Linked DNA regions of Homo sapiens. The protein of the gene in region 6 purifies or fractionates together with the protein of the main gene of each other region. This does not show direct contact. Each region holds a gene or a part of one and is shown on either strand. Other genes may lie near its edges.

Region 1 (3,500 bases), on a different chromosome or scaffold from region 6:
TTTTGCTCAGTTTGTCATACATTTCTTTGCTTTATGACACTTCATGCTACATAGAGACTTGAATTTTGTACACGTATTGAATTAACCACTTTTATGATGTCCAGGTTTTGCATCATACCCTGCCCAGTGTTGGTTTAAATAATTTAATCCATGTATTTTACTATTTTGTTTTTGTTTTAAACATTTAACCAAGCTGGAATTTTACTGGGGAGGGATCATAAGCTTTGAGGTAGGGATTTCTGGTTTTCATTTTATAAAAATGATTTTTTGCCTTTCTTAGGCTTAGTTTGTAATTTTTTGGAATGTTTCATAAAATATATATACATATATATAAATACAAAAATATAAATAAGTAATATATTTGCAGGATGTAATGTTTTACCATGGTTTGTTCAAATCAGAATTAGTGATGTGTTAGGTGTCGTCATCTTGCTGAGATCATAGTTGGCAGTTGGCTTGTAGTTATACTACGCCATCTACATGTGCCTGTTGCAAAAAAATACTTAAGCTAGGTTGATACTGTTCAGTACATGGGGTTTTTGGTATATTTTATTAAGCAGTCACAGTTGAAAAGCTGAACTGTTACTTACTCCAAGGATGTTTTTGCTACTTTAGACATCTTTAGGTAATCTGCTTCTTGTTTAATTTGATTAATTTAGACTAGTGTTTCTTAAACTTTAGCAATCATCAGAATCACTTGAAAACTTGTTAGAGCAGATTGCTATGCCTCACCTTCAAAATTTCTGATTAAGTAGATCTGAGATGAGACTCAAGTTTTGTAGTTCTTACTAGTTCCAAGGTGATGCTAATAAATTTTTAAGAGCATCTCTGCCCTAAAACAGTTGGAAAACACTGTAGATAGTAAGGCACCCAGTAAAGTGTGGAGTTTGGCTATCCTGTGGCACTTTTATTAATTCATCATTGAAACTTCAAACTTAAAATTTTACTATTGTGACTCATTCCTTAGCCTGGATAAATATTTCATTACTACTAAGAAAGTTAGTAAAACTTGACTCTTACATAAAGGAAAATGGACTGTAGTTTTTATCTCCAGTGCCTGATTCTGCCTTTCCTGAGTTCTGTGTCAAGTTAGTTTTTTGTTGTTAAGCAAAGGGTTTCATACATTTAACAGTATAGCAAATCGTCAAGTACTGTTTCTTTTTTTTTTTTTTTTTTTTTAGTGGCTTAAAATTGACAAATTCATTCTCTCACAATTCTGAAGGTCAGAAGTTCAAAAACAGTATGTTGGCAGGTTAGTTCCAACTGGAGGCTCTAAGTGGCAATAGTCTTTCATGATTCTCTCCTAGCTTTTGGTGGTGGCTAACAGTCCTTAGCATTCCTTGGCTTGTAGCTTTGTAACCACAGTCTCTGCCTTCATCTTCACGTGGCTTTCCTTTTGTGTTCAAATCTCCCTCTCTTTACATTTTGTAAGGATACTGGTCATTGGATTTAGGGCCCACTCTTAAATTCAGGGCGATCTTGTCTGAAATTTATAACTTAATTACTTCTGCAAAGACCCTATTTCTGAGTAATGTCACGTTGATAGGTACCAGAGGTTAGGACCTGGGCATATCTTTCGAATAGCTTTTTGCTATGAAATTTGTACGTACAATGGGTTCCTTTATCTGGGACTTTGTGAAGAGTGTGTTAATGTAGGAGAGACTTAGGACTGGGAATCAGTACAGTGATACCTAGTCTTAGTAACTGGTTTTGAGAGTCTGGAAAAGTTGACTACGGTTTTTTTCGTTTTCTTCACTGGAAAAGAAGTAAATTTGACTATATCCTTGAGACCTTTGAAATTTTGAAATTTCATTTTTCTTGAAATTATTCATTGTACAAACAGCAGTATCCCATATTAACTGGTGATGCAAGAAGTAATTAAGTGCAGCACCTCATGGAATGGGATCACTGGGTGATGATCAGTATTGAGGAACCATTGGGAATTGTCTGGATGATAGAAGTTTTGGCCATTTAACTAAGTACTTGCAATATGCATAGTTAATAAAGCACAATAAAATATTTCCATTAATCTAATTTATAATATTTATAGTCTGCCATCTGTAACATTTCTTCCCTTAGAAAAATAAAAAGGAATGTCTGTTGGTTAGCTCTGCTCCATATTGTGATTGATTAAAGCTTGAGGAATGTGAGGAGAAAAAAGATCAAAATAAAGAAGGTGACTTTTAAAACTAGTTTTAAGAAGTTTTCAACTTAAAGTCATATTTTATCATTTCTGTGACTTTTTTCTCAAGTTTTTATTGTCTGAAGTTACAATGTGTCTCACAATCTACTGAGGTCTTGTAGTTGGTGGCAGTTTGGTTATTATTGCCTGTGAATGCTTGAACTCGATCTAGCTGTACATATTTTCACCTCAAATAATGTGAATTGTTGGGTCTGTATATACTGAGAGTATTTGCTAATTTAAATGCCTTCAGAAATATTAAATATTACACTATGATTCCATGTTGAAATGAGCACTGAGTATCAAGAGGCTGGGAAATGGAGCAATAGGGTGTAAATATGCTAGTATTTGAGCAAATGTTGGAAGAGTAACCAATCCTTTTTTTTTTTTTTTGCCTTGCAAATCAACAGACCGCTCTATTGAAGCTAAGAGAGGTAACTCACAAATAGAGGAAGCTGTATGTTATGTTCTGCTACTGAGATCATGTACAAGAGTATTGCCTCTCTCGTGTCTGTGATATATCGGAAGACAGGAAAAATTACCAAACGTCCTCAGATCAAAGAAATTTCAAAGCAGCTAAGGGCTATAGTGTTGCTGATTCTTGCACTATGCTTTACTGTCTTTAAGGCACTGAGTCATAATTTAATTGGCAGTGTTTTTTCTTTCCTGGTCTTACATAAAATAACCTTATAGCTAATGCTGTTTGTCCCTCCCAGGAATGTGGTAGTTTATTTTTAAAAATATGACCAAGGACAAGAAGCATAAAGCATATAAATGAGTTAAGATGGATTTGTTTGCCAATAGTTTATGAAATTTAGAATTAAGTTTAGGTGAAATAAAGAGAATTCACTTCTTTTTGTTGTACACTATCAATTTGCTGAACTTAATGCTCCAGCAGATGGCATGAGCTAAAAATATCCAGTTGGTCCATGAAAGATTAGGTTAGACTAATCATAAAAAGAGCCAAAATGGTGAATTCATAAATGATGGCTTCAGATTTTTTAATACCACTTTTAAATCCGTAAATAAAATAATGGGTTTTTATCTAACTGGATGAGCTGTGACTTAAGCATCTAAAGGCATCCTGTGTTTTGTCCAGGTGCCAAAAGGAAGATAGTTGTTTTTCATAGTGACATCAGTAACCAGTGTGGAATGGACAGGAGATAGCTGACCCCTGCAAAGTTATACAATCTTGACCCTTGATCTCATTGCCTTCATTCTTACGTGGCGCCTGTCTTGTGATAACTGGAGTCCATATTAGCAGCCTTCACTTGAGCCATCCCTAACTAAGCCTGGTTTCCCTTTTTGGTTCATTGAT
Region 2 (3,500 bases), on a different chromosome or scaffold from region 6:
TGTTGCCTGCAGGCAGGGCCCCTTCCTAATGCCCTCCCCTCCTGAGTGGCAGCAGCCTCCACAGTACCCCATGCCTGGCCTCACGTCACCCTTGGGGGGAGGGGCACTAGCTGGAAGGACTTGGTTGTTAAGCCTCCAGCAAGGTAGGCCAATATGCAAAGCAGGGGGAAGGGGCGCCGCCCCCAGCATGCCTTACCCTGACATTCCTCCTCGGTTCATCATGTGGCCAGGCCCGGAGTGACCGGACATGCTTCTCTCGCCACCTGGAAGACAGACGTGCTTTCACACAGGGAACTTGCGCACACGGCGTGGAACCCACGGCACATTTAGCCCACTCCACTCCCTTTGGTGAGGCCCCCAGGTACCCACAACTAGCGGGTCCCAGGAAGACACCTGGGCACAGGGACCATAGACGTCCAGCTTCCTCCCAGCAGAGAGAACTCGGGAACGCCCACTGTCCAACTCCTGGGCCAGACCACCAGAGAGCAGGCGGTGTCTGGAGTGCTCTTCATTCCTCATTCCAGCACTGAGAGCAGAGCACCTCCTGTGCTCCCCCAAGGAGAGAAGGCGCGGCCTCCATCTTTCCATCACTCCCCAGCACATCCTGGTCCCAGCCCAGAGCTGCTCCTCACCTTGCCACCTCTTGTGATCCCTGTCCATCATGCCCCCGTCGGCCGTGCCCTGCCATGACCGGTCATCCTCTCTTCGGCCATGGTCCCCCCAGTCACGTCTGCCCCTTGAAAGAGAGACATCTCTGATTTGGATTGCCCCCATCTCTGGCTCTTGTGCTAATAACTGTGGCGGCTTCTGGAGAGTGAATCCCTCTGTGTTTCCCACCCTGTGCCCACATCCCAGCGACTTGCGGGCCCCCTTGTGGGCGGGGGGGGGGTCAGGTACTGTCGGGTGTGGGACACAAACCTGGGGGGAGGAGGCAGCCCCCGGCCCTCGCTCATCCTCTTGTCAGAGCCATAGCCCCCCCAGCCATCGCGGGAGTCCCGGCCGTGGCGCTCTGGTCCTCCATGGCGTTCTGGGTAATGCTGGACATCACAGAGCCAGAAGGGAAAAAAAAGCTTCAGTGTCAGCGCCCAGACCCCAAGGCTTTTCAGGCAACATGCTAACGATGACAACGACAGTCACTCGGGACAGAAGTGCTGGCAGGCTGTATCGGTTCACACAACACAGCTGCCTTCCTGAAATCTGCAGGCCAGAGGCCCTGTGCCCTAGGCTCATGGCCTGGTACAAAAAAGGTACTAGTACCAAGGCATCTCCAAGGCAGGTCCCCACAGCACCACCAGAGCTGGGAGGGCCACCAGGAGTCACCCACTAAAGATGATGCTTACAAGAGAGATTCCCTGGGTCCCACAGCTCAAATGGTTAGTTCCCAGAGCCAACAGTATTCTCTTACTGTCTTCTACTAAAGAAAGGTCAGGTTTATAAACCTTTAATGTGTGCATATTCTGGAAATAATTTTTACAAATTTCTTCCTTCCACAGTGAAGGAAGTATCAAATGGAGCCCTTCATCCGACCAATTGCTAGGCAAGCATCCTTCCTCACAGTCAAGTTTCTCGGAAGTTTCTGCTGGATGCCCAGTCCAGGGTCTTGCACCTTGCTCTGCTCAGGATATAAGACACAGGACACTGAGAGATAAACGGCTGGCCTTCCACTTGGCTAGTCCCACCTTTCCCTCTTCTGTGTCATTGTTTTTGTAAGCCACGTGGCTAACACAGACCAGGAGTTCTTGACCCTGCTGTTTCAGGGAAGACCAAGAGAGGGCGAGTCACACTCTATGCCTACTTATTTGATGGCCAAGGTTAATATTTACACCCACAGCCTATTTCTGTGGCTGGAAGCACTTTCCAGCCTGACTTTCACAAAAGCTAGTGAGGTAGCTTTGGCTCCACAGTCCTGTTTTTTCTCTTTCCACCAATACATATGTGGTCTCTGGGGTTTTTGCCCCATGACCACATTGTAGGTGAAAGGAAACTAGAAAGGAGTCCTGGTAAGGAAACCCCCTTGACACAGGCTGGTTGTTGTCCATGTCCAAGTTCACCTCCCCGTTCAACGGAGAGCTCTGCCAGGGTGAAGGGAGAGATGGCGGCATGCTCCACCACGTGCACGATGTCCCACGTTACCACTGCCTGCTTCCTGGCCTATCCTCCCAGCATGTGCTCTGATGCCTCCCCTCAACAAAGTAAGAAAAGGGACTCCTGAAATAAGCTCTCCTTAGTATTTGAAAATTGAACCAACATTTTTCTGTCCAACCAACCCACGTAACTGTTCAATGAGGCCCATAAGTTCTGTGCTAGTTTTCTCTGTAGGGAGATGTTACCATTTCCCTTTGGGGTAACTCTGACGACTCATTTATGACTGTGTATGTGAGGAGAAGGGATCAAACCGCGTTCCACTGTTAGGAGAGCATATCTAACACCTTCATGAAAGCAGCTGGTGGCCAGGTGTGCTGGCTCACATCTGTAATCCTAGCACTTTGGGAGGCCGAGGTAGGAGGATCACTTGAGCTCAGGAGTTCAAAACTGGCCTGGGCAACATAGTGAGATCCCGTCTCTATTAAAAAAAAAAAAAAGTAGCTGGCAATGATAAACACGTTTGTACAGATGCGCCCACCTCATGTAAACCCCCACCACCGCACCCTTTGTAGGAGGAATATTACCCTCATTTCACTCCTGGGGAGACAGGCTCAGCAGGAAGGGGTGACACCAAGGTGTGACGCCAGTTCTGATTCTGGAGCCTTTACATGGAACCATTGGTGTATGCTCCTCCACCAAAGAAAATCCACAAGACTAGTTCTACGTTTTGCTGCATATAATTTGCCTCCAGGAGCAGGGAAAAAGGAACCCCACGAGGCTGATGGAATTCCTGAGGATCCCGAGACAGAGCTGAGTACTTGGCTATGCTCAGCCACATTAAGGAACCAAGGGGGACAGAAGCGGGAAGCTTATGGTGGAGTCCAGAAAATGCTGGCAGGAGGAGGAAGGGCTCATGAGTGGAGTCCTCAGAGAGGAGGCATCTTCCACACAGCAATGTGCTGCCCCCAAGTTTATAGGGAAAGCCACTAGAGGTCCAAGGCTCTCCTGGGAAGTCTCAGTCTCAATGTAAGATGGAAGGAGAAAATGGAGCTTATTGTTCTAATGTGCTAGCCCCCGAAGAGAATGAGCACAGACCACAGATCTAGTTGTTTTCCAAGGCTAAGCTGGGCCCTGGGGTGATGAAGGATGTCCTTACTTTCAAAAGAGGGCAGGCACTCGAGGACAGACACAGCAACCACAGCCTCCCCAGATGCACCTGTCTGAGTCAGCTGTGCGGCTCACTAGACACTTCCCAGCAGAGCCAGGTCACATCCCAAGGTTCCCTGGCACTGTTGCACATGTGTGGTGAGTGTGGCACACAGAACCCCAGGGTCAAGGCTAAAAACAGCTTCAGAGTAACTGTTTGGACTGACAGCCAAGACTAACCCCAAATAATCCCAAATTTCCATTCCACA
Region 3 (3,500 bases), on a different chromosome or scaffold from region 6:
CCTTCTCTCAGTTTAATACCAGGTCTTCGGCCTTCTCTCACTTTCATACCAGGTCTTTGGCCTTCCCTCAGTTTAATACCAGGTCTTCGGCCTTCCCTCAGTTTAATACCAGGTCTTCGGCCTTCCCTCACTTTCATACCAGGTCTTTGGCCTTCTCTCACTTTAATACCAGGTCTTAGGCCTTCTCTTACTTTAATACTAGGTCTTAGGCCTTCTCTTACTAGTGCTTTTTTCTTTCAAGACAGAGTCCCACTCACTCTGTCACCCAGGATGGAGGCAGTGGCATGATCTCAGCTTACTCTAACTTCCGCCTCCCAGGCTCAAGCAATTCACATGAGGTTTCACCATGTTGGCCGGGCTGGTCTCGAACTCCTCAAGTGATCCGCCCACCTTGGCCTCCCAAAGTGCTGGGATTACAGGTTTGGCTCACCGCATCCAGTCTTTTCTCACATTCTTGACTGTGACAAGCAGATTAACTGATAAAAACAGAAACTTCTGCACAAAATAATAAAAAGAAAAACTCACATAAATGAAAAGACAAAACCAAGCAAAGCTGGGAAAAAAATGAATCTAAATGAGCACAGAAAGGAAAAAACAGCTCTGAGCGCACGGACCCCACAGATCCACTAGACACCAGCGATAAAGAGAAGGCCCTGCAACCAGTCCTCGCTCCGGTGAGCCCGCGGCCCGCGCTGCCGTGTGCTGCTGGAGAGGGGACAGGAAGCGAGGCACAGGCCGGCAGGAGGCAGCTTCCTCCCTGGCTGGTCAGTGGAGGGCTGGGAGCACCCGTGTCAGGGGTGCTGCAGGGCAGGGAGCACACAGCCCAGGGCGCCCCTCCAGTGGGATGGCTCGCAGACACAGTCAACAGCTGGAAGGGCAGGGGCTGCAGAAAGTCCCAGGGAGTAGGAACCAGGCCAGGAGACAGAACTCGTGGGTCATCAGGTGGCACAGAACGCAATTAAGAGGCAGGACTGCCAGGCCCAAGGCAGGGAGGCTGGAGATGGGGTGGGCCCTGGGGTGAGGCTGGCCCACCAAGCTCGTGCCAGAGCAGGTGGACCCAGAAAGAGGGGTCACTGTAGCAGGGACGCAAAGGGTGGGGAAGGGATGCCTGCCCTCAAACCACACAAACACAAAAATAAATCAAACCCACTGGCCCCAAGGAGGCTACTAGCAACAGCTGTGGGCCCTGCCGTGGCCCACAGATACCCCAGGGAAGGAAGGGGGAGGTACAGCACCCACCCCATCTTCTTGGGCCCTGTCCCTGTCCTCATCCCTATCCTCTGACCACCCCCCAGACACAGAGTACCCTTCTTCACCTTCACTCCTGAGCTCCTCATGCCAACAGTCAGGGGAGGAGCTGCAAAGGGCACAGCCAGACCCTGCTCCTTGAGTGCACCTCACAAAACACCAGGACTCCTGACCCCAGAAACACAGACAGCAAATGCTCGTTGTTGAAAGGCACTATGGTGGCCAGGTGCGGTGGCTCACGCCTGTAATCCCAGCACTTTGGGAGGCCAAGGCAGGTGGATTACCTGAGGTCAGGAGTTCAAGACCAGCCTGGCCAACATGGTGACACTCCCTCTCTACTAAAAATACAAAAAAAAAAAAAATTACCCGAGCGTGGTGGCTGGCATCTGTAATCCCAGCTACTCAGGAGGTTGAGGCACGAGAATCGCTTGAACCCAGGAGGCAGAAGTTGCAGTGAGCCGAGATTGTGCCACTGCACTCCAGCCTGGGCGATAAGAGCAAAAAAACTCCATCTCAAAAAAAAAAAAAAAAAAAAAAAAGAAAGGCTCCATGGTTTGGGGCAGTTTGTTGTGGTGCCAGATAACAAAACAAACAAACAGAGAGAAAACAGCAAAGGGCTCCTGGCCCAGGGAGCTCAGACCAAAATGACAAGAACCAGCTAGCTGTCCTGCCCTTGGGCAACAGCCATGAGGGTTTCCAGCCAGCTAAGTGCATGGATGATGCCGCCACAGGGAAGAGACAGAAGGGCTTCCGGGACTGGGACCACGGGCACGCACCGCCATGCCTGGCTCATTTTTTAAATTTTCTGTAAAAATGGGGTCTCATTATATGGCACAGGCTGGTCTTGAACTCCTGGGCTCAAGAGATCCACCTGCCTTGGCCTCCCAAAGTGCTGGGATTACAGGTGTGAGCCACTGGGCCCAGCCTGTGACTCATTCTTTTTATTTTTATTTTTTCAGTTAAGCCCAGCTGTGCGAGCCTCATTCTTAATGAAAGAAAAACATCACTAAACAAGAGGAAAAGATGAAGCAGCAACACCATGAGGGAGGCTGGTGGTGGGAAAGCAGCTGAGGGGCGGCTGCAGTAGTGCATGGCATCACCGCCTAGCGGAGGGACGCTCCAAGCACCTTCACAATTAAATGCATTGATGGCCAGGTGCGGCGGCTCACGCCTGTCATCCCAGCACTTCAGGAGGCCAAGACAGGTGGATTACCTGAGGTCAGGAGTTCGAGACCAGCTCAGCCAACATGGTGAAACCCGTCTCTCCTAAAAATACAGACATTAGCCGGGCGTGATGACGGGCGCCTGTAATCCCGGCTACTCAGGAGGCTGAGGCGGGAGAATCACTTGAACCCAGGAGGTGGAGGTTGCAGTGAGCCGAGATTGCACCACCGTACTCCAGCCTGGGCGACAGAGCGAGACTCTGTCTCAAAAAACAAAACAAAACAAAACAAAACAAAACTAGCCAGGCATGGTGGCGGGGACCCTGTAGTCCCAGCTACCAGGGAGGCTGAGGTAGGAGGATCCCTTGAGCCCAGGAAGTTGAGATTTTGGTGAGCCAACATCGCACCACTGCCCTCCAGCCTGAGTGACAGAGTGAGACCCTGTCTCAAACAAAAAAAAGCATTTATCCTTTGACCTAGAAATTCTCTTGGAATTTTCCCCAAGAATGGTGTGCACATGTGAGAAACAGCATGTTACTGTCAGGTCAACTGTAAGAGCAAAAGCCTGCAACTGCCCACCCACTGGAGCTGTTGAGGCCGAGCTGCCAGGCACTCTACGGGCACCAAGCACTGTACAAACCAGAGCCATGGCCTCCCTGACAGAACCATCCTGAGACAGCGCACGGCTGCCCCTTCTCTTAAGAAACCACCATTCAAAAACTCTGTGCGAGTTTGGATATGTCTAGAACATCCTGGAAAGAGACTTCAGCACTGGAAACAGTAGTTGCCTGGATGCAGCAACAGGAGCCAGGAGGGAAGGGTAGGAGACTCGTTCCCTGGCACACCCCTCAGGAGCACCTGAGCATCCAAAGGTGCCCTAGAACACCACGTGCAGCTGCTCACTGAATGCCACGTAATTCTACACAGTCCTTAGAAAGGAGGCAGGGTCGTGTGCATGTCAATGCTAAAGGCCTGAGGGCAGAAAGCCAGAGGGAAGCCTGTGGCCCGGCCCTGCAGCCAGAAGCACGCCCACCCTGGGTCCACCCAGGCAGGTCCGGAGCCCTTGGCAGGTCGCCAGGTCTCCACAGG
Region 4 (3,500 bases), on a different chromosome or scaffold from region 6:
CACACCCTTCAGCTTCAAGCCTCAGGAAGAAAGGAGCCCAGTCCCGGGTTCTTAGGGTTTCAAGGGGCCACCTGTACCCACAAAGAGGCCAAGGCCAACTTACCCTTCACCTTCTTGCTTTTGGGGATGGCATCTGCTGGGGGGGACCTTCTTTTAGCTATGCGCTTGGGTGACATCTTCCTGTCCTGAAAGTCAGTCAAATACTACATATGAGAAATGGCAAACATTTTCCTGGGCCAATCAGACAATATTTATCAAACACTCTAGAAATACGTTAAGAGGAATTGCCCAACAATTCCACTTCTCAAAATGTATCCCAAGAACAGAATAATGGATGCACCCACAGATTAATTACACAAATATTCTCTACTGTATCCTTCATAACATTTTAAAAACAACAAAAACAGAACCCGAATGTTCAATAGTAGTGAACTAAATATGTGGTATATTCATGATAGAACAGTATGAAGCCATCAAAAGTGATGTTTTCAGAGATCAATCTATTGAATAGAAAGATGTTCCCCATTGCCAAGTAAAACAAGCAGAATGAAAAACAGACGGCCAGGTGTGGTGGCTCACATCTGTAATCCCAACACTGTGGGAGGCCGGGGCGGGCGGATTACCTGAGATCAGGAGTTCCAAACCAGCCTGGCCAACATGGCAAAACCCCGTCTCTACTAAAAATACAAAAATTAGCCAGGCACAGTGATGGGCACCTGTAATCCCAGCTACTCAGGAGGCTGAGGCAGGAGAATCGCTTGAACCCGCGAGGTGGAGGTTGTGGTGAGCCAAGATCGAGCCACTGCACTCCAGCCTGGGCAACAGAGCCAGACTGTCTCAAAAAAAAAAAAAAAAAAAAAGCCTGGGCGCGGTGGCTCACGCCTGTAATCCCAGTACTTTGGCACTTTCGGAGGCCAAGGTGGGTGGATCACTTGAGGTCAGGAGTTCGAGACCAGCCTGGCCAACATGGTGAAACCCCGTCGCCACCAAAAAAAAAAAAAAAAATACAAAAATTAGCCAGGCATGGTGGTGTGCGACTGTAATCCCAGCTACTTGGGAGGCTGAGGCAGGAGAATTGCTTGAACCTAGGAGGTGGAGGTTGCGGTGAGCCAAGATCATGCCATTGCACTCAGCACTCCAGCCTGGGAGAAAGAGTAGTGAAACTCCACCCCCCAACCAAAAAAAAAAAAAAAAAAAAGGAAGAAAAACAGCCTATCATCCATTTTTTTTTTTTTTGGAAAAAAAATGCATACACAAAAAATATGTGAGAAAAATGTGGGGAAGAAAATATATCCCATATTAACAATGGTAACCTCGGAAAATGGTATTATAGATAATCATTACTTGTTTCGTTTTATCTTCCTATATTATCTAAGATGTTTAACAAGGAGCATTACATGTATTTTTCTGTTTTTTGAGACGGAGTCTCACTCTGTCGCCAGGCTGGAGCGCACAGGCATGATCTCAGCTCACTGCAACCTCCACCTCCCGGGTTGAAGCAATTCTTGTGCCTCAGCCTTCCGAGTAGCTGAGATTACAGGTGTGCATCACCATGCCCTGCTAAGTTTTGTTTTGTTTTTGTTTTTTTGAAATGGAGTCTCGTTCTGTCACCCAGGCTAGAGTGCAATGGTGCGATCTCGGCTCATGCAACCTCTGCCTCCTGGGTTCAAGTGATTCTCCTGCCTCAGCCTCTCGAGTAGCTGGGATTACAGGCACCCACCACCACACCCAGCTAATTTTTGTATTTTTAGTAGAGACGAGGTTTCACCAGTTTGGCCAGGCTGGTCTCGAACTCCTGATCTCAGTGATCCACCCCGCCTTGGCCTCCCAAAGTGCTGGAATTATAGGCGTGAGCCACTGTGCCCAGCCCAAATTTTGTATTTTTAGTAGAGACGGGGTTTCACCATGTTGGCCAGGCTGGTCCCAAACTCCTAATCTCAAGTAATCCACCTGCCTCAGCCTCCCGAAGTCCTGGGATTACAGGCGTGAGCCACTGCGTACAGCCGATTACATGTTTTTTTTTTTTTTTTTTTGAAGCAGAGTTTTGTTCTTATTGCCCAGGCTGGAGTGCCATGGCGCAATCTCGGCTCACCACAACCTCTACCTCCCAGGTTCAAGTGATTCTCCTGCCTCAGCCTCTGGAGTAGCTAGGATTACAGGCATGTGCCACCACGCCCGGCTTATTTTGTATTTTTAGTAGAGATGGGGTTTCTCCATGTTGGTCCCGCTGGTCTTGAACTCCTGACCTCAGATGATCCACCCACCTTGGCCTCCCAAAGTGCGGGATTACAGGCGTGAGCCATCGTGCCTGGCCACATGTATTTAAAAAATTTTTAAGTCTGTTGTAAAAAATTAAAACATTGAAGAACAACATTAAATGAAATATCCATCATAACTCCATTCAACCCCATGTAAGCACCAGTAACTTTGGTAATGTGTTGTTATAATCAGAGGGGGAGAAGAGCTATTTTCTTTTCTTATTTAATTGATTGATTTTTTTTAGAGACAAGGTGCCACCACACCTGTAATCCTAGCACTTTGGGAAGTCGAGGCAGGAGGATCGCTTGAGCCCAGGAGTTCAAGACCAGCGTGGGCAACATGGCGAAACCCCATTTCTATCCAAAAAATTACAAAAATTAGCCGGGCATGGTGGTGCACGCCTGAAGTCCTGGCTACTCAGGAGGCTGAGGTGGGAGGATGGCGTGAGCCTGGGAGGCTGAGGCTAAATTGAGCTGAGATTGTGCCACTGTACTTTAGCCTGGGCGAAAGAGACAGACACTGTCTCAAAAAAACAAAAACACACATGCACTGAAGATCGCGGCTGCTGTGGGAAGGTTACTCTGAGCATCAGTTGCCCGGCATGTGAGTGCCATTCCTTGGGGGCATTTCTGCCACTGCAGCCCTCAGGCCTGCTGCTTCTGGAAGAACAAGTTTGACAAACATATTGTGGTCTGGTTCCGGTCAAGCAAAATTCTGGTACCAGTTCCTCATACCATGCACCTGATGTCACCCAGCATGCGCCCTATTTTAAGGGTACAGCCGTGGTCAATGGAGAGTTCAAAGACCTAAGCCTTGATGACTTTGAGGGGAAATATTTGGTGCTTTTCTTCTATCCTTTGGATTTCTTTCTTTTTTTTTTTTTTTCCGAGACGGAGTCTTGCTGTGTCACCCAGGCTGGAGTGCAGTGGCACGATCTCGGCTCACTGCAACCTCCCCCTCCTGGGTTCAAGCCAATTCTCCTGCCTCAGCCTCCTGAGTACCTGGAATTACAGGCGCCTGCCACGACGCCTGGCTAATTTTTGTATTTTTAGTAGAGATGGGATTTCACCATGTTGGTGAGGCTGGTCTTGAACTCCTGAACTCAGGTGATCCACCCACCTCAGCCTCCCAAAGTGCTGGGATTACAGGTGTGAGCCACCGCGCCCAGCCCTATCCTTTGGATTTCACCTTTGTGTGTCCTACAGAAATTGTTGCTTCTAGTGACAAAGCTAAGGAATTTC
Region 5 (3,358 bases), on a different chromosome or scaffold from region 6:
AAATAAAAATACAATTATGCAGTCAAATATATTCTTAGATGATTTCTAAATGCAATAGTATAAATGTTAGCTTTCTATAAATTCAAGTCATCATGTAATAAAGTGGTAATTTTCTAATTTACCAAGTAGCTTGGGCACCTTTTTGCTTTATTAAAGCTAATCGTTGTGCTTTCCAGGATAAGGACAATTTGGAGGTTACTTTCCCTCCTAGTTACATAAATTAAGATTTAAAAAACTCTTAAAGAGAGCTTTTAATATCAAATTTAAAAGTATAAACACTCAAATTATTACTATTATACACAGCTATTCAAAACGCAGAAATAATGAGTACCTCTGAAATAGCTAAGCATTGTATAGCTCATTATTACAAGCCTACAGGAAAAGCTCAATATTAGATACCTTAAATTGTTTACAAGAAATCCTTGATGTTAAGATCCGCTAATGGGTCCTTTGCTGGAGGTTTCTTGGGACTCTGACTGGCAGGTGTAGGGCTTGGAGAAAGCTAATGGGAAAAAGCCAGCCCCAAAGAGCAGGAATAGAAAGCAGAGAGAGAATGAGACATGGGGGGAAGAGGGGGCAGGGGGAGAGAGGGAGAGGGGGAGAGAGAGAGAGAGAGAGAGAGAGAGAGAGAGAGAGAGAGAGAGAGAGAGAGAAAAGCATTAGGCAGAACACATATCAAAGAAAACAAACCTGCAGAAGATTAGATGGTTAAAGGCTTATGAAATCTACTTGTTCTACATAGTCACAGAGTTGTGTTTAATTCTGGACTGGTAAAATATACTTCAACTGATATTTGGCTTTCTTGAACTTCTCTGACATCAGATTTAGCCAAAGTAAAATTTGGGGACTCCAGTAGAACAATATGGGTATGACTTAGGGAAGATGTGAAACACTAGTAACATAAAGATATTATGAACAAACAGTAAAACAAACAAACAACCGTTTTCTCTATACAAAAGCATTTTTACTTTCAGTCATTAGTACCTCTAAACTAATAAATCTATTTAAATGGCTTTTCCTGTAGTGAGAGTGAATTTGAAGGAAAAATAGGAAACGGTTTGCAGAAAGCTATTTAAGAAATTACTTACACTTATTAGCTAAATATACTAGAATTTCATATACATTATTTTAAGTGAAAATCAGTCAAGTTTGAGGGCACTGTTTGTTTCACATGACCAAATAGTTTCCTGGTAGTGAATGCCACTAAAATTCTAATGCAATCTATTCAGCTCTCAGAGAAGGCCAAAACTAATTATTAAATACTATAGGAAAGAATCATATTGGACTTGTTGCAAAAGTAACAAATAATTAACTTGCCTTGTTTCTGTTTAACCAGAATCTAAATTATTTTTTCATTGTGTCACAGATATAACTTCTGGGAGCTGACTTTTACAGGATACAAGGTCTTGAAAAATCTCATGTAGTTTATAGAGTAATAGTTGACATCTAGGCTTTGAGTCTAATTAATCTCCTATGCTTGTAGTAACATGCTGGGACTGTGGGGCAGTGTTGTATATTTTTATTAGTTCAGTGAACAGAGTTCCAGAAGTATGGATTTTGAGATTTGGTCCTATGTCCAGAAACTACTGACTAATTATATTATCTATCTGTCAAATTTCCATGTTTAAAACTGGGATATGGGCTGGGTGTGATGGCTCACATCTGTAAAATCCCAGCACTTTGGGAGGCCGAGGCAGGAGGATCACTTGAGGCCAGGAGTTCGAGGCCACCCTGGGCAACAAGGCAAGGCCTCATCTCTACAAAAAATAATAAAAAAAAAAATAGCTGGGCACAGTGGCTTGCATCTGTGGTCCCAGCTACTCGAGAGGCTGAGGTGAGAGGATCCCTGTTGCCTAGGAGTTCAAGGCTGCAGTGAGCTATGACTGCACCACTGCACTTCAGCCTGGGCAACAGAGTGAGAACCTATCTCAAATAAACAAATAAGCAAACAAAAAAATAACAACAAAAAACCTGGGATCTGTTTCATAGAGAGAGATATATATATAAATAAAGTAAGGCTTGAACTTCCTTAAATCAATTCAAAGATTGGTCCATAATTGATAATTAGGTGAGATGACAATATCATGATACCAGCCAATGAAAGAATGCTGCGATAGTCCAGGCATCAGTAATAAAAAAACTACTTTGTTTTCTGAAGCTACAAACTCACATTTATTTTATTATCTAGTATAATTATGCTTCTTCTCTGATATAGGAAATATAATCTAAAAATTACATAAATATGGTGTATCATTACCTGGCTTATTATGAATTCAATTACTGATTGAAACAATGTATTCCCATCATACTATCTATTTTTCATTTTCATTCTTCTAATTAAGTAAATAAATTGTTGCTAACTTTGGTATTACACAATAAAAACAACTGCCTTAAGTAATAAAATTATATTTATTTATTTCTGAAGCTTTCAGTATATCAAACACAATAAGGTTAAAAGAAATCTCAGTAACATTGTTCCAAGTGCATAATAACAGAAATATTTCTTTTTTTTCAAAAAGATGATAGTCATGGAACTATTCAAACATCAAGGAAATATTTATGATAAATGAGATCCCTTAGAATTTAAGTATATCTAAGTTATACCTAACCTCAACCATTATACCCAAAACCTTCCTGACTGTCCCCAAAAACAACACTACACAGGGTTCACCAGTCTTCACATAGACTAGAAAATTTCTCCTGAAGCCAGTTATGGCCAGTAATGGCCATGAAGGCTAGGGTTTCTCACATTCTAAATTTCTGTCTTTCAACATCCACCATTCTTTCTCTTGGTCCCTGTTGCTTTTGAGGGGCAAAGTGAAGAAGCTGAAAGGAAATTTTGGGAACAGGTCAATGGATTTAGAGATGCATCAAGGAAGCAAAAGGGATTAAAGTATACTCAGAAAGTTCACAGCAGCAGGTATTCCATGGATAAGACAGTATAAATACTGATTTGATAAGTTAAAAATATTATAGGACTGAAAACATTTACTCATATCATTAAAATATATTTGAGCTATTTGCTCTAGTTTGTAAAGCATGCTGCTACCAAAGTAGTAATTTGGTGTCCTGCCCATCCAAGTCAATTTCTCATGATGAAAACTTCTTTGGTTCTACATGTAACATCACCTTGGCCAGACAATTTAAAAGAGGAATCAGGAAAGCATGATTCATCACTAAGACTAGCACCACTAGCAGCAAAACGGTTCAACAAAGTGTAACATATTTTGGCATTTTTGAAGGGTAAGTAGCACAGTGTGTAGTAAGGAATTTAGCTTTACCTAAACTGAGGTTTTTTCCTTTGCCCAGAAAGGGAACCTCTAAATCCTTATAATTTCTCAAATGATAGGCATGTCTT
Region 6 (3,500 bases):
GATTCCGCATCCCCCTCAACACTAATTATTCAAAATACTTGTTAAGTTACACATTGGTTTAACATATGTACTAACAATCCACATGTCTTATATACATATTAAGTATCCCTTTTCCAAAATGCTTGGGATCACAAGTGTTTTAGATTTTGGATTTTTGAATATTTGCATTATACTTTCTGATTCAGCATCCCTAATCTGAAAACCCAAAATCTGAAATGCTCTGATGAGCATTTCCTTTGAGTGTCATGTGAATACTCAAAAAGTTTTGGGTCTTTGGATTAGGCATGCTCAACCTGCACATATTTTCCTCAAAGTATACTGACTTAGACAGGTAGTTCCCAAAAGACAAAGGCTATATTTATAGACTTTTGCTTGAGATATTATGCAAAATTGGGTGCCTATTATGATTTTATGTATTTTTTGAGACACAGTCTCGCTCTATTGTCCAGGCTGAAGTGCAATGGTGCAATCTTGGCTCACTGCAACCTCTGCCTCCCGGGTTCAAGCGATTCTCCTGCCTTAGCCTCCCGAGTCACTGGGATTACAGGTGCCTGCCACCATACCCAGCTAATTTTTATATTTTTAGTAGAGACAGGGTTTTGCCATGGCTTTTTCACGGTTTTTCCAGGCTGGTCTGGAACTCCTGACCTCAGGTGATCCTCCTGCCTCAGCCTCCCAAAGTGCTGGGATTAGAGGCGTGAGCGACCACACCCAGTCTGGGTGCTTAATATTTTCTATAATGTGAAGAAATTAATTAATCTTGCCTGAACCAATCCCATATACTAGGTTAGAGCTCCCTACTATAATATGCTCACATAATACTCTGCGTTGCCTTGCACAGTAGCCAAAACAACTGTAACTAATGTCCATGTCCTCACTAGACTAAGTTTCTTGGGGCTGAGACTTGTTTCTTTCTTTACTATATTCCTCGTGCCTAGCATGTGCCTGGTATACAACAAGTACACAATAAAAATTTGTTGATTAAACCACAGCAGATACCCAACTCCAGAGGGTGACTGAATGTGTTAACACGTAATATACACAACTGGTGAAGAGATGAAAAAGAGCTGACTGTTGCCAAATTCAGAGGTAGAAGAGTTGAAGAGGTACAGATGAGAAGAAAAATCACACTGCTTCGTAAAACACTGAGAAGGTAACACAATATATAGGTGAAAGCAGACTTCAAAAAGGGTATACTTTCCATGAGAAACAGATGTCAAATATCAATGTCACAGAATTTCCCTGGGACTTTCATGGAGGCTTAGCATGAAAGGAGGTGTAACTACCTCCCCCCACCAACTACGCAGGATTGACAAAACAGCGCAGTGGGGAGGGAGATACGTACTGGGCGAATGTCTGCTGAGCTCCAGCTCTGGTCTCTCCAGGCTGCTCTGAAAGTCAGGAGGCAGCAGGGAAGCCACTCCCTCAGGATGGATCATCTCGTCCTCCGACTCAGCTGAAGCTTCTGCAAAGTACAGATCGGGTCGGGGCAGGGAGGGAGTGAAGGACTCAGCATGTAGGAATATGTAGAGGAGTGAAGGAGGTCAGGCAAAGTCACAGATACAGAGATACATACCAAAAAGAGCACCGTATAAAAAGAAAAAACTCCCTGGGATTCAGCTCTACTTCATCTAAATGGTAGCTTAATTTACTTATAACTCTTCCTGTTGGCAGGAATCCTCTTCTAACAAGACAGTCAAATTAAGTGTCCTCTTCCCTGACAAAAGTAAATAGTAAACCACTTGGCTTCATGGGCTATGAAAGCAAGTAAGTAGCAGTCTCAGCCTCACTTATTTCTGAAATTGTCTAGTTAGACAGGCCTATCTACTTGGTGACAGGGATAAGAATGACGAACTCCTTGTTAAAAGTGACAATCTGGGCTTACCTTCAAGTTCTGCAGCTTCTCGAGCTTCACGTTCCAGACGCTGCCTAAGTAGCTCCTGCTGCTTTTCCAGATACTGTTTTATGAAACTGTTCTGGCTCATTTCCTCACCAATCTGTGTAGAGGAAATGAAAACAGAGGGTCTAGGAAAACAAACCAGGAGAATGCAAAGAAGAACATTCCATGGAGCAAAGGTCCACTCCTTATAGTTGCGCCCAAGAAAGATAACTAAAATGTTGGAAGGCTTTTTTCTAAGTTAGTTCTATATTGAAGAACAGAATAGCCTTGAGTCACACACAAAAAAAGGGCAAAAAGAAGAGCTGCACATAAGTTTTTGATTTAAATATTCAGTTCCCAAAGAGTGATACTGGTATACAAATTACTATTCTTTATTTTTATTTTTTGAGACAGAGTTTCACTCTGTTGCCCAGGCTGGAGTGCAGTGGCGTGATCTTCCCTCACTGCAACCTCTGCCTCCTGGCTTCAAATGATTCTCCTGCCTCAGCCTCCTGAGTAGCTGGGATTACAGGTGTGCACCACCACACTCGGCTGATTTTTGTATTTTTAGTAGAGACGGGGTTTCACTATGTTGGTCAGACGGGTCTCAAACTCCTGACCTCAAGTGATCCACCCGCCTCAGCCTCCCAAAGTGCTGGGATTACAAGTGTGAGCCACCGTGCCCAGCCACAAATAACCTTAAATTAAAATTCCTGTAATTATATCTTTTAGGCTAAATTCCTAGATTACGTGGAACATTATCTAAAGGGTAATCTAAAATTTCCTTTTGGTAGTATCAAGACTGAAACATGGGGGCTCACGTCTGTAATCCCAGTACTTTGGGAGGCTGAAGTGGGAAGACTGCTTGAGCTCAGGAGTTCAAGATCAGTCTCAGCAACATGGCAAAACCCGTCTCTACCAAAAATACAAAAAGGTGGGCATATTGTGGTGTGAGTCTGTCATCCTGGCTACTCAGGAGGTGGTGGGTGCAGTGAACTGAGATCGTGCCACTGCACTCCAGCCTGGGTTAAAGAGCAAGACTCCATCTCAAGAAAAAAAAAAAAAAAAGCCAGTTCCTCCAAAAGATCAACCGTTACCTATCCAGGAAACATTTTTTTTTTTTTTTTTGAGACGGACTATCACTGTCATCCAGGCTGGAGAGCAATGGCGCGATCTTGGCTTGCTGCAACCTCCGCCTCCTGGGTTCAAGACATTCTCCTGCCTCAGTCTCCTGAGTAGCTGGGATTACAGACATGTGCCACCACAACCAGCTCATTTTTGCATTTTTAGTATAGACGGGGTTTTGCCATGTTGGCCAGGCTGGTCTCAAACTCCTGACCTCAGGTGATCTACCCGCCTTGGCCTCCCAAAGTGCTAGCATTACAGGCGTGAGCCACAATGCCCGGCCTCATATCCAGGAAACATTTTATCAAACAACTCCAAAATTCAAGTATAGTATTTAAAAGTATGAAATCAAGAGACTAAGAAAAGGGATATCCATTCAGCATTTAGACAAAGTTATAACTCCATTTTGTCTGGGTGAAAGGAAATCCTTGGTAACAGGAGCTTATGCCTTTTCCTATTTTTTTTTTTTTGTAATACAGATTCCCAAGTTGCCCTT
Region 7 (3,500 bases), on a different chromosome or scaffold from region 6:
TTCATCAGTAGGATCTGTTTGTACAGATACGCATCTACTTTTTCTGGAGCCCTCTTTCAAGTCTAAAAGTAATAGAAATTAATTTTGTCAGACATTCCCCAAAGTAGAGTTAGATTAAATCATATAAACCCATATTTACATTCCATGTTAAAACACCTTAGTACAGGCCAAGTACAGTGGCTCACGCCTGTAATCTTAGCACTCTGAGAGGCCAAGGCAGGTGGATCATGAGGTCAGGAGTTCAAAACCAGCCTGGCCAGCATGGTGAAACCCCATCTCTACTAAAAATACAAAAATTAGCCAGGCATGGTGACGCGCACCTGTAGTCCCAGCTATTTGGGAGGCTGAGGCGGATCACTTGAACCCAGTAGGTCGAGGTTTCAGTGAGCTGAAATTGCACCACTGTACTCCAGCCTAGGCAACAGAGCAAGACTCTGTCTCAAAAAAAAAAAAAAACCCCACAGTATAACACCTCACGTTAAATTAAAAGTTACCAAATAAACTATTTTTCATAAAACAGTTAACCTGGAGACTACTACTTTTCTGATAATTCTTTCCACAACTAATGCCTGGGTTAAAAATAAATTATTAAACACCAAAACTTACTTTGAATTACATTAAGACATGTTTCACTAAATTCTATTAAAATAATTATTCCCTCCAGCTCTCAAATCATAGCAAAATTACTTTTAAACTACTTTTGTCACTGAATATATTTCATGTTATTAGTTGCTACAGTTTCTATTAAAAATACCCACATAATATAATTTTTGCGATTATTAACCCTTGTTTATACAGGAAGCAACATGGCACTGGCTCTGGAACAGACTGCCACTTTTGAATCCTCAATCAGTTCATCACTTACTAGGTTAATGGTCTTGGCCAAATTACTGACACACTTGTGTCTTCTAGAGTTAGAGGATAAAGTGAGTTAAAACATGCAAAGTACATCAAATAATGCCTGGCACAGAATAAGCTTTCAACAAAGGTTAGTGATTGCTTCTACAGAGTATAAAAATATCTGAATAACAAATATAAAATATTCATAGAGAACTCAAATTTTACCTTATCATGCCTACGTTACATTCTAATAAAAATAATATTTTCCCCCAATACTATTCTGAAACCACTAAAATAACTTTTTAAATGTTTCTGTTTTAGAAAAGGATACTGATTTTAGAGAGGAAATTCTTAGTCCTTATAACTTAAGAAAGTTTGAATTTACATACCCTAAAGAGATAACATTTTCCCCCAATACTATTCTAAAACCACTAATAAATAACTTTTCAAATGTTTCTATTTTAGAAAAGAATACTGATTTTAGAGAGGAAATTCTTAGTCCTTAATTTACAACTTAAGAAGGTTTGAATTTACATACCCTAAAGAGATGGGAGTATTCAACTTTAACAACCAGATGGGATTTATTTACTCTAATGCCAATATCAAATTAGATAAATCTTAGGGACCCCCAAAAAAGCTCATCAGAAATCTGAGCCATTAAGACTACAGAAAAAAGGCCGGGCACTGTGGCTCACGCCTGTAATCCCAGCACTTTGGGAGGCCAAGACGTGTGGATCACGAGGCCAGGAGATCAAGACCATCCTGGCTAACACGGTAAAACCCCGTCTCTACTAAAAAAAAAAAAAATACAAAAAATTAGCCGGGCGTGGTGGTGTGCGCCTGTAGTCCCAGCTACTCCGGAGGCTGAGGCAGGACAATGGCGTGAACCCGGGAGGCGGAGCTTGCAGTCAGCTGAGATCACCCCACTGCACTCCAGCCTGGGCGTCAGAGCGAGACTCCGTCTCAAAAAAAAAAAAAAAAAAAAAAAAAAAGACTACAGAAGAAAATAAATCAACACTTGACATAGGCCAAAGCAAAACTTACCATTTTCTATTAATTGTTTGTTTCATAATACAAAATGTTAGATAAGTCATACTTCAATGAAGGTTGTTAGAGCCATGAATCTAAGCAAGTCTGTTTGAGAGTCATGAATCTAAGCACAGCTAAAGTTCCCCCCAAAAAAGAGGACAAACCAACCATATTACAAACTTGATTCCAGAACTAAATCAAGGTAATGACTGTTATTTTTGTGGCTAAATCCTTCATTTCTAAACATCAATTAATCAATTCCAAAAACGCTAAATATTCAAGCAATGATTCCTCTCCATCCACTGCAGTTTAAGTGGGATGGGTATTTTTACACAACTGTTTAATAAAAATCCATACTCAAATTCCTGATACTAAGAAACTTAATCAAGCCGGGCGCGGTGGCTCACGCCTGTAATCCCAGCACTTTGGGAGGCCAAGGTGTGCGGATCATGAGGTCAAGAGATCGAGACCAGACCACCCTGGCCAACACGGTGAAACCCCGTTTCTACTAAAAATACAAAAAAAAATTAGCCGGGCATGGTGGCAGGCGCCTGTAATCCCAGCTACTTGGGAGGCTGAGGCAGGAGAATCACTTGAACCTGGGAGGCGGAGGTTGCGGTGAGCCGAGATCACGCCATTGCACTCCAGGCTGGGCAAAAAGAGTGAAACTGTCTCAAAAAAAAGAAAAAAGAAAAGAAAAGAAAAAGAAACTGAATCAAATAAACTGAAACTAAGTCAAAAATAAAAATTATATTCTACCAGCAGAGTAAACAAGTACATCAATGTTTGTTTTCCAGTGGAAGTATGGAAGGAAAATTTAAACAAGAAAGTCTTCATTAAATCAATTAAACAAAAGCTTAAATTTACTGAAAAAAAAATTTTTTTTTGAGATGGAGTTTCATTCTTGTCGCCCAGGCTGGAGTGCAATGGCGCAATCTCAGCGCACTGCAACATTCGCCTCCTGGGTTCATGCGATTCTCCTGCCTCAGCTTCCCAAGTAGCTGGGATTACAGGCACCCACCACCACACCCGGCTAATTTTTGTATTTTCAGTAGAGATGGGGGTTTCTCCATGTTGACCAGGTTGGTCTGGAACTCCTGACCTCAGGTGATCCACCCACCTCAGCCTCCCAAAGTGCTGGGATTACAGGCGTGAGCCATCGCACCCAGCCTAAAGTTTTTAATTTAATAAATATCTTAAATACTGAAGTCAAAAACTAACATTAACCTTCAAATTTCAAAAAAATCTTAAAAGAAAATTTTTGAGACAGTTAATTATCTCCAACTTACCTGGCTTATATCGTAGTTCTGTATCTAAGACCCCAGAAAGTACTTCCTCTATCTTCTGCACTATTTCTTCATTTGGTAGACTCCTGGCAGAGGCAGCTGCATCACCCGCCTGGTTTCCTTCAATGGGTGTATTTGTTTCACCATTCAGCTGGCCTTCATTCCTTCCACTTGACATGAAAAGTTATCGAAATTCATTAATATTTTATCATACCATTAATAAAAAAATCCAATTAATTACAATAATCATATGTTGTACTGACTGTCAGATGTTTTACCTTTTTCCTATTTTAGATATTCACCACTAATAATGCTTCTTACCATGATCTACTTATATTTTGGACA

What was found.
Region 1: the proteins of ACIN1 (region 6) and DHX15 fractionate together in Homo sapiens (co-fractionation; one large-scale study listed by BioGRID). This does not show direct contact.
Region 2: the proteins of ACIN1 (region 6) and SAFB fractionate together in Homo sapiens (co-fractionation; 2 studies listed by BioGRID). This does not show direct contact.
Region 3: the proteins of ACIN1 (region 6) and BOP1 fractionate together in Homo sapiens (co-fractionation; one large-scale study listed by BioGRID). This does not show direct contact.
Region 4: the proteins of ACIN1 (region 6) and RCC1 fractionate together in Homo sapiens (co-fractionation; one large-scale study listed by BioGRID). This does not show direct contact.
Region 5: the proteins of ACIN1 (region 6) and SNAP91 fractionate together in Homo sapiens (co-fractionation; one large-scale study listed by BioGRID). This does not show direct contact.
Region 7: the proteins of ACIN1 (region 6) and SON fractionate together in Homo sapiens (co-fractionation; one large-scale study listed by BioGRID). This does not show direct contact.

The regions. Positions count from the first base shown.
Region 1 is NC_000004.12:24,557,055-24,560,554, reverse strand, and holds part of DHX15 (ATP-dependent RNA helicase DHX15), read left to right. Parts: intron 1-3,500.
Region 2 is NC_000019.10:5,664,583-5,668,082, reverse strand, and holds part of SAFB (scaffold attachment factor B1), read right to left. Parts: intron 1,038-3,500; coding exon 919-1,037; intron 737-918; coding exon 633-736; intron 264-632; coding exon 197-263; intron 1-196. UniProt on the Homo sapiens protein: Binds to scaffold/matrix attachment region (S/MAR) DNA and forms a molecular assembly point to allow the formation of a 'transcriptosomal' complex (consisting of SR proteins and RNA polymerase II) coupling transcription and RNA processing.
Region 3 is NC_000008.11:144,281,439-144,284,938, forward strand, and holds part of BOP1 (ribosome biogenesis protein BOP1), read right to left. Parts: intron 1-3,500. UniProt on the Homo sapiens protein: Component of the PeBoW complex, which is required for maturation of 28S and 5.8S ribosomal RNAs and formation of the 60S ribosome.
Region 4 is NC_000001.11:28,526,543-28,530,042, reverse strand, and holds part of RCC1 (regulator of chromosome condensation), read right to left. Parts: exon of another isoform or gene 3,430-3,500; intron 3,110-3,429; exon of another isoform or gene 2,805-3,109; intron 186-2,804; 5' UTR 177-185; coding exon 104-176; intron 1-103. UniProt on the Homo sapiens protein: Guanine-nucleotide releasing factor that promotes the exchange of Ran-bound GDP by GTP, and thereby plays an important role in RAN-mediated functions in nuclear import and mitosis.
Region 5 is NC_000006.12:83,555,744-83,559,101, forward strand, and holds part of SNAP91 (clathrin coat assembly protein AP180), read right to left. Parts: intron 503-3,358; coding exon 410-502; 3' UTR 400-409; intron 1-399. UniProt on the Homo sapiens protein: Adaptins are components of the adapter complexes which link clathrin to receptors in coated vesicles. Clathrin-associated protein complexes are believed to interact with the cytoplasmic tails of membrane proteins, leading to their selection and concentration.
Region 6 is NC_000014.9:23,088,637-23,092,136, forward strand, and holds part of ACIN1 (apoptotic chromatin condensation inducer in the nucleus), read right to left. Parts: intron 1,998-3,500; coding exon 1,886-1,997; intron 1,466-1,885; coding exon 1,346-1,465; intron 1-1,345.
Region 7 is NC_000021.9:33,546,038-33,549,537, reverse strand, and holds part of SON (protein SON), read right to left. Parts: intron 3,326-3,500; coding exon 3,159-3,325; intron 63-3,158; coding exon 1-62. UniProt on the Homo sapiens protein: RNA-binding protein that acts as a mRNA splicing cofactor by promoting efficient splicing of transcripts that possess weak splice sites.